Homo sapiens: one gene and its partners. The protein of the gene in region 1 purifies or fractionates together with the protein of each later gene. This does not show direct contact. Each region holds a gene or a part of one and is shown on either strand. Other genes may lie near its edges.

Region 1 (3,655 bases):
ACTGCACTCCAGCCTGGGCGACAGACCGGGACTCGGTGTAAAAAATAAATAAATAAATAATTTTAAAAAATAAAAAGGAAAAAGAAAAGAAAACAAAAGAACAAAACAATAAGTGCAGTAGCTACATAATTTCCCCTCCAAGTGATTCAAATCACTGATAATTGTAATAATAGCCAATATTTACTGAAGATTTATGTGCCAATTTTCTAAAGGGCTTTGCATGTTATAATTTATTTAATCACAACTCTACTAGAGAAGTTTGTATAGACCAAGGGAAGTTGTATGACTTGCCACAAGTTACACAGCAAGAAGTAGCTGAGCTGAGCTTTGAACCCAGAACACCTGATTCCAGAGTTTATGCTCTAAACTTCTATATAATACATCCCTTCTAATACTATGTATACAACTGTTTTATAGGAATAAATCATTGAAATAGAGGTATGGGAAGGATAATGATTTGAGGAGACCAAGGGACAAAGAGATGGACAAAAACAGAAAAAATGATGCCACAATATTTTTTACTATTTTTCAGTCTTTGAGTGATTGCAGTATGACTCCATTTCCCTGGTGCATTCATATAATAGTTCACCTGGTGAAAACAATGAAGATTATTTACAATGCTACCCTGCTTTTTCTGGTGTCCTGAACCTGGAAGTTGTGCTTTTTAAGGTAATCTCTTTACCAAAAATTATTAAGAGGAGGAAGAGAAAAAAAAGAGTTGGTTTTGACACATTAAAAAGTAGCCAAACAAAACTCAAAAAGATAGCAGCAAATGATAAAATTGAAACTATATTCTACATTATATGAAAACATATTCATAATAATAGTGTAATCTGAAGAAATGTTTTGTTAGATTCACTTGTACTTATAGTTTCTATTATTACTGTGAAATATATCATCTTTTTAACTACATTTTCTAATTGTTTCTAGTAAATGGGAACATGATTGATATTTTTGTATATTTATTTTATATGCTGGAGCCTTCTTAAATTCTGTTTATTCTAATAATGTATAGATTTTCTTGGATTATCTGTTAATTAATTATATTTTGAATAATGACAGTTTCTTTACAATATTTCTTTACCTTATATTACTGTGCTAGCTAGGATCTTCAGTACAAAGAGGAACAACAGCATTGGTAGAGGATTTCCTTATTTTGTTCCTAAATTCTACAAAAGTTTCACCTTTTTTAGTAGATTGTCTTTCTCAAGTTAAGGAACTTTCTTAATGTTCCTAGTTTGCTGAGAGGTTTTATTACAAATATTATGAAGTTTTTTCCCGTCTATATGTACTGCCACTTTCATATCCTTTCTTCACCATTAATATCACAGTGTGACCATGTGATAAATTACAATAATCAATTTTCTAATGTATTTCTTGCTTTTGCTTTCATCGAGCCTCGTCATTGGATATTTGGTTCCTATTTTAATCATTTTGACTTTTATTTTTATATTGAACTTTCTTCTACTTTCCTTTTATTGTTCTTTTTCTAATTTATTGAGTTGAATCTTTAGCATCTTAATTTTCAATGTTCTTCTGTAAAATAAGAATTTAGAACTATAAATTTTCTTCTACCACTTTAGAAATATTTCACAGACTTTTATATATAGTATTTTTATCATTCAATATTTATTATTTTTAAATTTCTCTTATGATTTTTTTGACCCATGGTTTGTTTTTTTTCAATTTCTAATCATATGGGATTCCTTTTTTAAAAAATATATTATGAAATCATTACATTATTCCCATTCTAGTTTAACTTTATCTTATTTTTCTTTTTTAATTTTTTTTACATCTATAGACTTTATTAGATGTTCTTTATACAGTCATCTGGTATGTATAAAGAGTGAACAATCATATAAAAGGAAATATGGTCATAACTGATTGAATTAATAAAATCCTGAAACTAAATAACTCATAATTCATTGCACAACATATATTAGGTTTCATTAGATCAGTATATAGCTTAGTAGTAAACTCTCCTGATGGCCATAAACCTCTAAGGTGTTGTCATCCTGAAAAATGAAGGAGGGGAGGGAGCTGGTGGGGTGCAGAATGGAGAAACCTTCCATAGTGCTGGTGTGATGTACCCTAAGTTGTAAAGTTATAGGGCATCGCCACCTAGTGGCAGAATTTCATGCCTTGTTCTAATTAAGGGACTTTCCTTGTTTTCCAAAGAGCAATGTGTCTTGTTCACTTTCTAACCATCCCTCTCTGATGCTGTCCTTCCTAAAATCCATGCCTCCTCCCATACAGTGTAAACCCATCTGCTTTTCATCCATCAAGCTGTCAAGGATTTGGTTATGACAATTTTTATGTTCACCTAACTTTTTAGTTCCAAGTACTTCGGTTATTTTCAAAGCTACACACAGGATGCCCATATTTTTATAACTCCATCTTATTTGTGAAGGATTATTACTTTGTGCTTTGGCCTAGTTTTTATTCTTACTGCTGAATCTTTTCATAAGTTAAAGTTATTGCAGAGTTAATGCTTTAAAAGGCAGTCCTTAGAGTAAATAGCTAAATGAAATCATTACCAAAATGTACACTTTGGATTTATTAAGATTCTAGAATTTAAAAACAGGAAAAGGTGCCATTAGTGAAAATTCCATCACTAACATTTTGGTACCACTCGTAGAGCATCACATAAATATTCAGACCGTGATAACTCAGTGCAGGAATGTTATCAAATATGTCCATGCAATCTGGAACTAGGACCAGAGTTGGCAATTGGGGGTCTGAAGGCCCAACATCCCTTACACTGCTTCCTACACCTTGACAACAGGAAGGCTGAGTGATACTAGGTAGTGCACTACAACAGTGAACATAAGCCAGCCATCTGTTTTTTGCAAAGTATAATAAAATAGAAAAACAGAACATAGACCACTTCAGAGCAAACAAACATATCCTTCTTCAAGATGTAGGAAAACCATATATTCAAAACCAATCTCAAACTTTAAACAATAAAAGATATCAAACATTTTAAACTGTACAAAGCAAATTAGCAAGATTTTAATGTTGGCAGTTTTAAAATGTCACCCATCCAAAACACAAAACAGGGAGATAACCAAGTCTTAGCTCCATCCTAATCAAAGCTGTCATGCAGATCCAGTTCCACTCTTCTCATCTCCAGCAGGTACTTCACTCAAGGAGGTAACACCCAAGGGGAGTAGATGGACCAAAAACAAGAGTGCCACATAGAAGGAAGAGAGGGGACCTTGGACTTTAGCTACTGGTTAGCTATTCAACTTTGATGATATTCAGTGTTTTCCCAAGTTATTTTTTCTCGCTTCTCATCACATAATTTACATTATGCATACTATGTGCCAGAGACTGTTTGACATGTAGTCAGTTAATTTTCACAACTGTGTAAAGTTGGTTTCTATCATTAGCTCTATCTTAGGGCCAAAGAAACTGAAGCACGGAGAGGTTAAATTGTATTCCTAAAGCACTACACAGTGAGCAAATAGATTCAGACCTGTGCAGTCTAACCCAGAATTAGCTCTGAATCACTCTACCATTCTGTCTACAGGACAACAAGCCTGTGTGTTTCAGGTACTTTCATGGTGATTTTTCACACAGGACAGCTTTTGATAATAGAAAGGCCCTCTCTTTCAAATGAAAGGACTTCACTGATGGATTAACAAATTCTCAC
Region 2 (3,655 bases), on another chromosome or scaffold:
AGTATCAGTTCTCAGCAGCATGGCAGGCTACAGAGAGAAGTGCTGAGCTCACTGTCCTTGGGTGGTGTGGCTCTCCTGGTGCACATCACAAACAGCCCAACTGAACAGCTCCGGGGATATCAGCCCTCCCTGGCCCCCAAGCCTCCCTCCCTGTAGGCCCGAGATGTGCAGAGCAAGGGCTGAGAGGTACTGGCACTTCGGTGGGAGGGAGGGAGAGCTGGCAGGTCTTGGGTGCTGCCCTGCTCCCCCTCCCTTCCTGGGATAAAATTAGAGTGCTGGGGTCACAGACACAGTCTTCCTGACTCAGCTCCCGTAACTCCCCTTCCACCCGCAGCCCAAACTGCAGCCACCATCCTCTGTGGCCCAGCCAGAGATCCAGACAGTCTGCCGCCCCAACTCCCCTCCTGCTCCCCTCCCATCCACCGATAGCCAGACTGGCAGCCAGGAAAAGGTGCGTGTCTGCATCTAGAGATGCTGGGCTAGGACCTGAGATCCATAGTCCCTGGGAGTCAAAGCAGAAAAGTTCTAGCCGTCAGACTGTGCTAGCCACCTTCATCAGTCACCTTAGCCCCACTCCTGCACCAAGGCCACAGGCCCAGGTCTCCGAGGGGGCCGGCAAGGCCAATGTACAACTACTCAAGGGAAAAGAGGCACCAGACAGGACTCTGGGTGGGGGCACCCTGGTCTAGGAATTGCAGGGCTGTTGAAGAGAAGAGGAAAACAGTCCTGCCCTGGGGAGTCGAGCCTGATGGCAGAGACATGACTGGGTCCTGGAGAGCAAGGTCTGAGGGGGAGGTCTGGCCCTACCCTGGGAATACATCTGAGGGGTCAGACAGCCACACCACAGAAAACTTCCACAGCTCTCCAGCAAAACTGTCTTAGCATGGACCCCAGGGCTGCCCACAAAGTATCTGCTGAAGACATGAAGGGAGGGTGAGGGCTGCTGGCCCCTGGGTAGGAGCTGCAGCACTAGGGCCCGGACAATCCCATGCGGATCTGCAAGCCTGAGCCCAGTTCCCTTCAAACCCTAGCCACAATGGCTAGGGTGGAGGAAGCAGGGACTGTTCGTCCCATTTTGCAGGAAAACGAACAGGAGCCCAGGACCACGGCCTCCCATGACCCCCAGGTTCCTGGCCCTCCCACCTCTGTTCTTGGTGATGCGTATGGACTAGAGGGAATGACACCAGCTCAGCCCCAGGACAAGGCCTTGGCCCATTCTCCACCCCAGCCCCAGCCTGGGCTCCCGCACCGCCTGAGGCCCTCAAAAGGCCTGATTGTGCCCGGGAAGTGTCGAGCAGCAGCAGCTCGATGAATACATGAAAGGAAGCTTTGTTCAGGTTGGCAGGAGCGGGGGCTGGGGGCTAAGGGGCAGGAGGGCTGCCTGGAAGTGAAGGCAGCACCAAGCCATCAGGGCCAGGCCTCGAGTCTCTGCCCAGGCAGGGGCTGAGCAAGGCCAGGGGCTACCCCTAAAAAGGCCAGGCCAAGGGAGTATGTATCATATCCCTGAACATTTTCTTTGTGATGCTTTATGAACCCAAACGGAGAGGTGAGGTAGATAAAAGCTGGATGGGCCCTGAACAGGCCGGGAGGGAAAGCCAGGCAGAGGACGCAACCTGAGCAAAGGTGGGGAAGGTGGCTGTATGGAGGACAGAGGCCATGCGCTGCAGCCTGGCAGAGTCCTAATGAGAAGAATCGGGAAGGTGAGCTGAGGCCCACGTGTGATGGGGGAGGGAAGATGCAGCCTGTCCAAGGACACACTGACCCACTGCCCACCACTCTCCCCTGCTGCCTGAACCTACGAGCAGGGCCAGGAGTGGAAAATGCCTCCCCATCCTCTGGCGTCCCCCACCTCCTGGCTCCCCCTGCTTCCCATCCTGCTTGTCTAAAAGGAGCACCGTCTGGCACCGTGTCCCCCCCTCACTCCCCAGCCTGACGCATTAGTGGCTAAGTGGTAGCTAAAAGCTCCCAGAATAACCAGGGGCTCAGGTAGGGGAGGGGGCTAGGGACATATGGGGAGGGCATAGCCCAGAGGCAGGCCAGGAACAAGACAACCCACCTCCCGCCCCATGTGATTCCGAGCCAATCCTCACTCGTGCTGGACCAAGAAAGCACATTCAGGCTGCCCCGTACCCAGCCGGACTCCATAGTTCCCCTGAGTACCATTTCTCATGGTGGCAGGGCCAGCAAGGCCCAGCTCCGGCCAGATAGGAGGGCTGCAAGGATGGCTGGGTTGTAGGAGATAACCTCCACCAGACACAGCCGCAGGGCCGGGTGCTCACAGGGCTCTGATCCCATTGGAAAGAATGGGGCCTGACTCCTTAGGGACCCTACCCTCGATCACCACCCCAGCAGCTGACCGACTGTGGCAAGTCTGGGCCTCTGGCATGCATTTCCTAACTCAGGCCTGCCTGGTGGAGCACGTTTCCTCTTCTCATTCACTCTGGTGCTGTCACCGTCTGGCCCGCTGTCCCCATACTCTTGTTGTTTGTGAAAGAGGAGTGCAGCTCCAGGGGAGGGCAGAGTGGGAGGTGTTGTTGTCCATGAAGGGGCTGGGTCCCATGCTCTGGTCTGGCAAAGCCAGCCTTGCAACCTGACCCACTGACCCAGTGGGCCTTGAATGTAACCTCAAGGAGCCTTTTGAAAGTGGGCAGAGAGTCAGGCTCTGAAAATGGCAGGAATGTGGGCACCCCCACAGAGAATGCCTAAGTCAGGCAGTCAGAGAGGCCCCGGGCCAAAGAGCAGAAAGCAGGCCGACCTCAGGTTGGAGAGCCAGCACATCTGGCAGGAGCGTCCTCCCACAGTTGTGCCCCCACCCCTGCACTGCCAGGCCTACCTCACACCCTCGCCCAACTACGTGTCTGGAAAAGAGAGTAGAGGGAAGGCCCACGTGATGCCTAGGAATTAGCCTGCAGCCTCTCCACCCTTTGGAATCCCACATCCACATGTCAAGGTGGAAGGGAGAGGATCTAAACAGTCATTGAACTGAAGGACACAGAGGCCAGAGAGGCTGTACCACCGGCCCAAGGACACAGAGCGAGGGAAGCTCCAAGTTTCCAGTACCCATTACCCAGCTGCTTCTCTCCAGGATCACATCCTGGGCTTCCTGGAGAGCCTCTGATTTGCAAAAAGCTGTATATTCAGCCTCTCCCTACTTCCCTGAATCATCCCTACTCTACCCTTCCCTCTCTTGCTCACTAGGTGCCGAGTCACTAACCTGATAACTAAAGGGAATCACCCGCCCACCCACCTTCCAGGTGAGGCCCTGATCTCCTAGGGGCCTTTAGTGATCAAAGCCTTAAATCCAAAGGAGTGACTAATGGTGGAAGTGTAGGTGCCGTGCATGTCAGAGTGGTAGAGGAAACCCTTCCACTAGGGGTGGGAATACAGGAACAAATGTTTCTGTCTCTCCTGATATGGCCAGGAAGAGGGTGTGAGAAGCCTGGTTTCCAGGGTGGCACCGGCTCGGTGCTAAGGATAGGTCATGGTTGCAGGTGGGTCCTGGCAACTCTCAGGCAGGGTTAGGTTCTAGATTAGCTAGTCGCCTGGCAGGGGCAGAGCCTGTGTGCTGGGGCAGGTGGTGGGGCCTCGAGACAGCACTCAGCTCATGGAGGACTGAGAAGTCTAACTTGTTTATGAGCTATGAGAAGAGCGAGCT
Region 3 (3,655 bases), on another chromosome or scaffold:
AAAGCTGCAGCATAAGGCCACACAGTGTCTTTCAACACTTTCCTAGTATAATTTACAGAGTATTTTTAAATGTTTAGGTTTAAACAACCTCCCACGGGGTCTAAGAGAAAGGTGATGGAAGATAAAACAACAGAAACAATTACTGTTATAACCTACCTTGTTTAATTATGCCAACAATAATCTACATATAAAATGTGCTCACAACTCCTCCCCACCAACTCTGAAAATAAAGTGACCATGGAATATAGCAAATTTGTAGGAAGGTGATGGAAGATAAAACAACAGAAACAATTACTGTTATAGTCTATCTTGTTTAATTATGCCAACAATAATCTACATACAAAATATGCTTGCAACTCCTCCCCACCAATTATCTGAAAATAAAGCTGACTATGGAATTTAGCAAATTTATAAGAAACAAAAAAGCTCTTGCAAATTGTATAAGTGTAAAATAAAAGGAAACTTTTTCTCAAAGATACATTATCAATCACATTTTTTAAATGACAATTTATAATTCCAAAATTATACCTTTACTCTTAATACTATGCTAAATAACCAAAAGCTACAAAAGGAGTTGATTAAAAAATACCAACTATCTTCCTATAACAACAAAAATCCCAATAGCTACTATAAAAAAAAAAAAAAAAAAAAAAAAAAAAAAAAGCTGTGAGAGCAGTAAAGCTATCTAATGGTGCCACCTTGTGGAAAATACTGAAGAAAGCTGAGTTTTGAAACATCCTTCAATTTGCCTAAGGGCGAAGTAAAAAGGTCTTAGAAAATACTCAAATAAACCTAACACAAGAAAAATCCAATCCAGTTACTGGTGATATTACTTAATCATCTATTTTAATCTATGATGATAAAAATAAAAATCTTTTCAGAACTAGAGTTAAATAGTAAGCATTTAAGTTTTTATTGATTCCAGACTAGGAACTAAGTAACTGTCAAAAGTATTAAACCACAAACTAAAACTTAAGTTGTATATTATTTCATCACTTCAATTTCAAATTTGAATTTACTTATGAACTAAAATGCATTAAAAAGGGAATGTTATGCTACGAACTTTGTAGAACCTACCAACTTGGTGAGCCAAATGGAAGCAAAGTTGCAATTACTAAAAAAAAAAAGAAAGTTTCAATCTTACACTTTTATCTGATGCATGAATATCTATATTTCCATAAACTGTTCCCAGACAGATCACTTTGCCTCCTTTTGTTTGAACATGCAATTTTTGACCCTGAAAGACAAATTTAAAAATACATATAGTGAAAAAGAGAGTAAGTGTGACTTATACTAGTGAAACATTTTCAATATTTCTGTATTAATACTGACAAAGCAACAAAAGAACAATAAGGAATGAAATAGAAACTCACTGCTTCGAATAATGACATCAACTGGAAAAAAATGTCAACTGCTGTTAAAGGGATTAAATAAGCCACTTGGACTCTAAGGGAAAAACAAGAGATACTTGGGTATTCTGGTAGCTTCACTGATGAAGGACTTGGGAATCAAAAATCACTGTGACCAGCTAACTAAATATCCACAGTGATGAAGATGACAATAATAATCAGTTACTATTCATCATTAATAACAATAATAGTTATCACTTATTTGGCATTTTCTCTGCACCAGATACCATGTTAGCTACTTCACATGAACTATCATTTAATCCTCACGACAAACCAGAGAGATAAGTATTACATTTTTCCCATTTTACAGAGGAAGAATGCCAAGATTCAGAAAGGTAAATCACTTTATCAGGGTGACACAGAAAAAAACCCAAAATCTAAAGTAACAATTAGAATCAAGTTCTGTATGATTCCAAAGCCCACACTCTTAACGCTGGACCGGTCTGAAGGACAGAATACACATTAGGTTAACAGCCCACTTAAACCTTCTAGCACAACACATCCCAGAAACTAAGTAAAAATGCCTCCGAGCACAAAACAGCAGTCACAAGCCAGTTAGCCTATTCTGCAAGACAGAAAACAAAAGTATGTGTATGTGTGTGTGTGTGAGTGACTTGATTTTGGACTTGAGAACTATGGCAAACACTACTATTGGCTCATCAAAATCCATTTTTTTCCAAAGTAAAAGCAGTATAGCTTGACCCATGGCAAGACCACATTTTCCAGCTTCCTTTACCTCTTAGGTGTTGTTAAGTTGTTACCAACATAACGTAAGTGGAAATGCTATATGCCATTTCCAGGTTGGTGCTTTTAGAACAAGTGTGCCTTCTCTGTGCTCTTCTCATTCCACCAAGTGGGTCCAGAATATAACAAGGCTCTAAAAGATGGCAGAGCCGGAAGACGGAAGGAACCTAGAATCACTGAATGAAAAAGACCCACCCATACACCTGGACACAAGTAAGAAATAAACTCATATTATATATGAGCCATTAGATGTTTGGTCTATTGTTTTTTGTTTTTGTTTTTAGACAGAGTCTCGCTCTGTCGCCCAGGCTGAAGTGCAGTGGTGAGATCTCGGCTCACTGCAAGCTCCACCTCCTGGGTTCAAGCGATTCTCCTGCCTCAGCCTCCCACGTAGCTGGGACTACAAGCGTATGCCATCACGCCAGGCTAATTTTTTGTATTTTTAGTAGAGATGGGGTTTCACCGTGTTGGCCAGGATAGTCTCGATCTCTTGACCTCGTGATCCACCCGCCTCAGCCTTCCAAAGTGCTGGGATTACAGGCATGAGCCACTGCACCCGGCCTAGTCTGATTTTTTTTTAGAGTAGTTTATTTTCCCTTAATCATTATATATGTCTTTAGTTTTATTACATAAAGAGATATGGATCACTTGAGCCCAGATGTTTTCCCTTAATCATTATATACGTCTTTAGTTTTGTTACATAAAGAGATATGGATCACTTGAGCCCAGATGTTTGAGGATTCAGTGAGCTAGGATCGTGCTACTGCACTCCGGCGTGGGCAACACATCAAGACCCTGTCTCTTAGAGAAAAAAAATCTGTACTATAGCATGGTTAACTACGTTATGCCCAGAGACATGAGTCTGAAGTCAAATTATATTTAATATACTCCTTATCAAATATGTGATAAACCTTTGAAAAGACTATCCACAAAGCACTTTTTTTTATTTTTTAATTATTTTAATTATTTTTATGTACAGAAAACACAACAGTGTACATTTAACCCAGTTTAGTGGCAAGTTCTTTAGCCTTTGCCTTTTCGAGCTTGGCAATGTGAGCCACAGACTTGGGACCCAGGACATTGCCGTCCCAGTGACAGTGGGTCTCATCGTATCTGGCATTGTAATTGGTCCCGATAGCTTCCATCAGCTTAGCCAAAGCTCCTTTGTCTTCTGAGTTAACCTGTGTGAAGTCGACAGTGGTGTAGGTCTTCCTGTGAACTAGACATCCCAGTCTTGCCTTCCCCTTGATAATGCAGCAAGTGGCTCCCATTTTATGACACAGGACAGGCAGGAAAACAGTCAGCTCAATGGGATCCATGTCGTGTGCAGTCACCACCAGCGGAGCTTTCTTGTTATCCACAAAGGTGGTGATGGTGTTAACTCCTGCTCGAAAGACAGGTGGTCTCTTAATGGGGAGGTCCCCTTTGCCCACAACTCTGCCTGGGCCAACAGCCTCCGCTTCTTCTCTTGCTTTGTCTCTGGTCTGTATTTGTGGGCCAGC

The links.
Region 2: the proteins of NBDY (region 1) and SEMA7A fractionate together in Homo sapiens (co-fractionation; one large-scale study listed by BioGRID). This does not show direct contact.
Region 3: the proteins of NBDY (region 1) and FAM185A fractionate together in Homo sapiens (co-fractionation; one large-scale study listed by BioGRID). This does not show direct contact.

What each region holds. Positions count from the first base shown.
Region 1 is NC_000023.11:56,731,531-56,735,185, forward strand, and holds part of NBDY (negative regulator of P-body association), read left to right. Parts: intron 1-532; 3' UTR 533-669; intron 670-3,655. UniProt on the Homo sapiens protein: Promotes dispersal of P-body components and is likely to play a role in the mRNA decapping process.
Region 2 is NC_000015.10:74,420,407-74,424,061, forward strand, and holds part of SEMA7A (semaphorin-7A isoform 1 preproprotein), read right to left. Parts: intron 322-3,655; exon of another isoform or gene 1-321. UniProt on the Homo sapiens protein: Plays an important role in integrin-mediated signaling and functions both in regulating cell migration and immune responses.
Region 3 is NC_000007.14:102,755,436-102,759,090, reverse strand, and holds part of FAM185A (protein FAM185A), read right to left. Parts: exon of another isoform or gene 3,102-3,655; intron 1,238-3,101; coding exon 1,145-1,237; intron 1-1,144.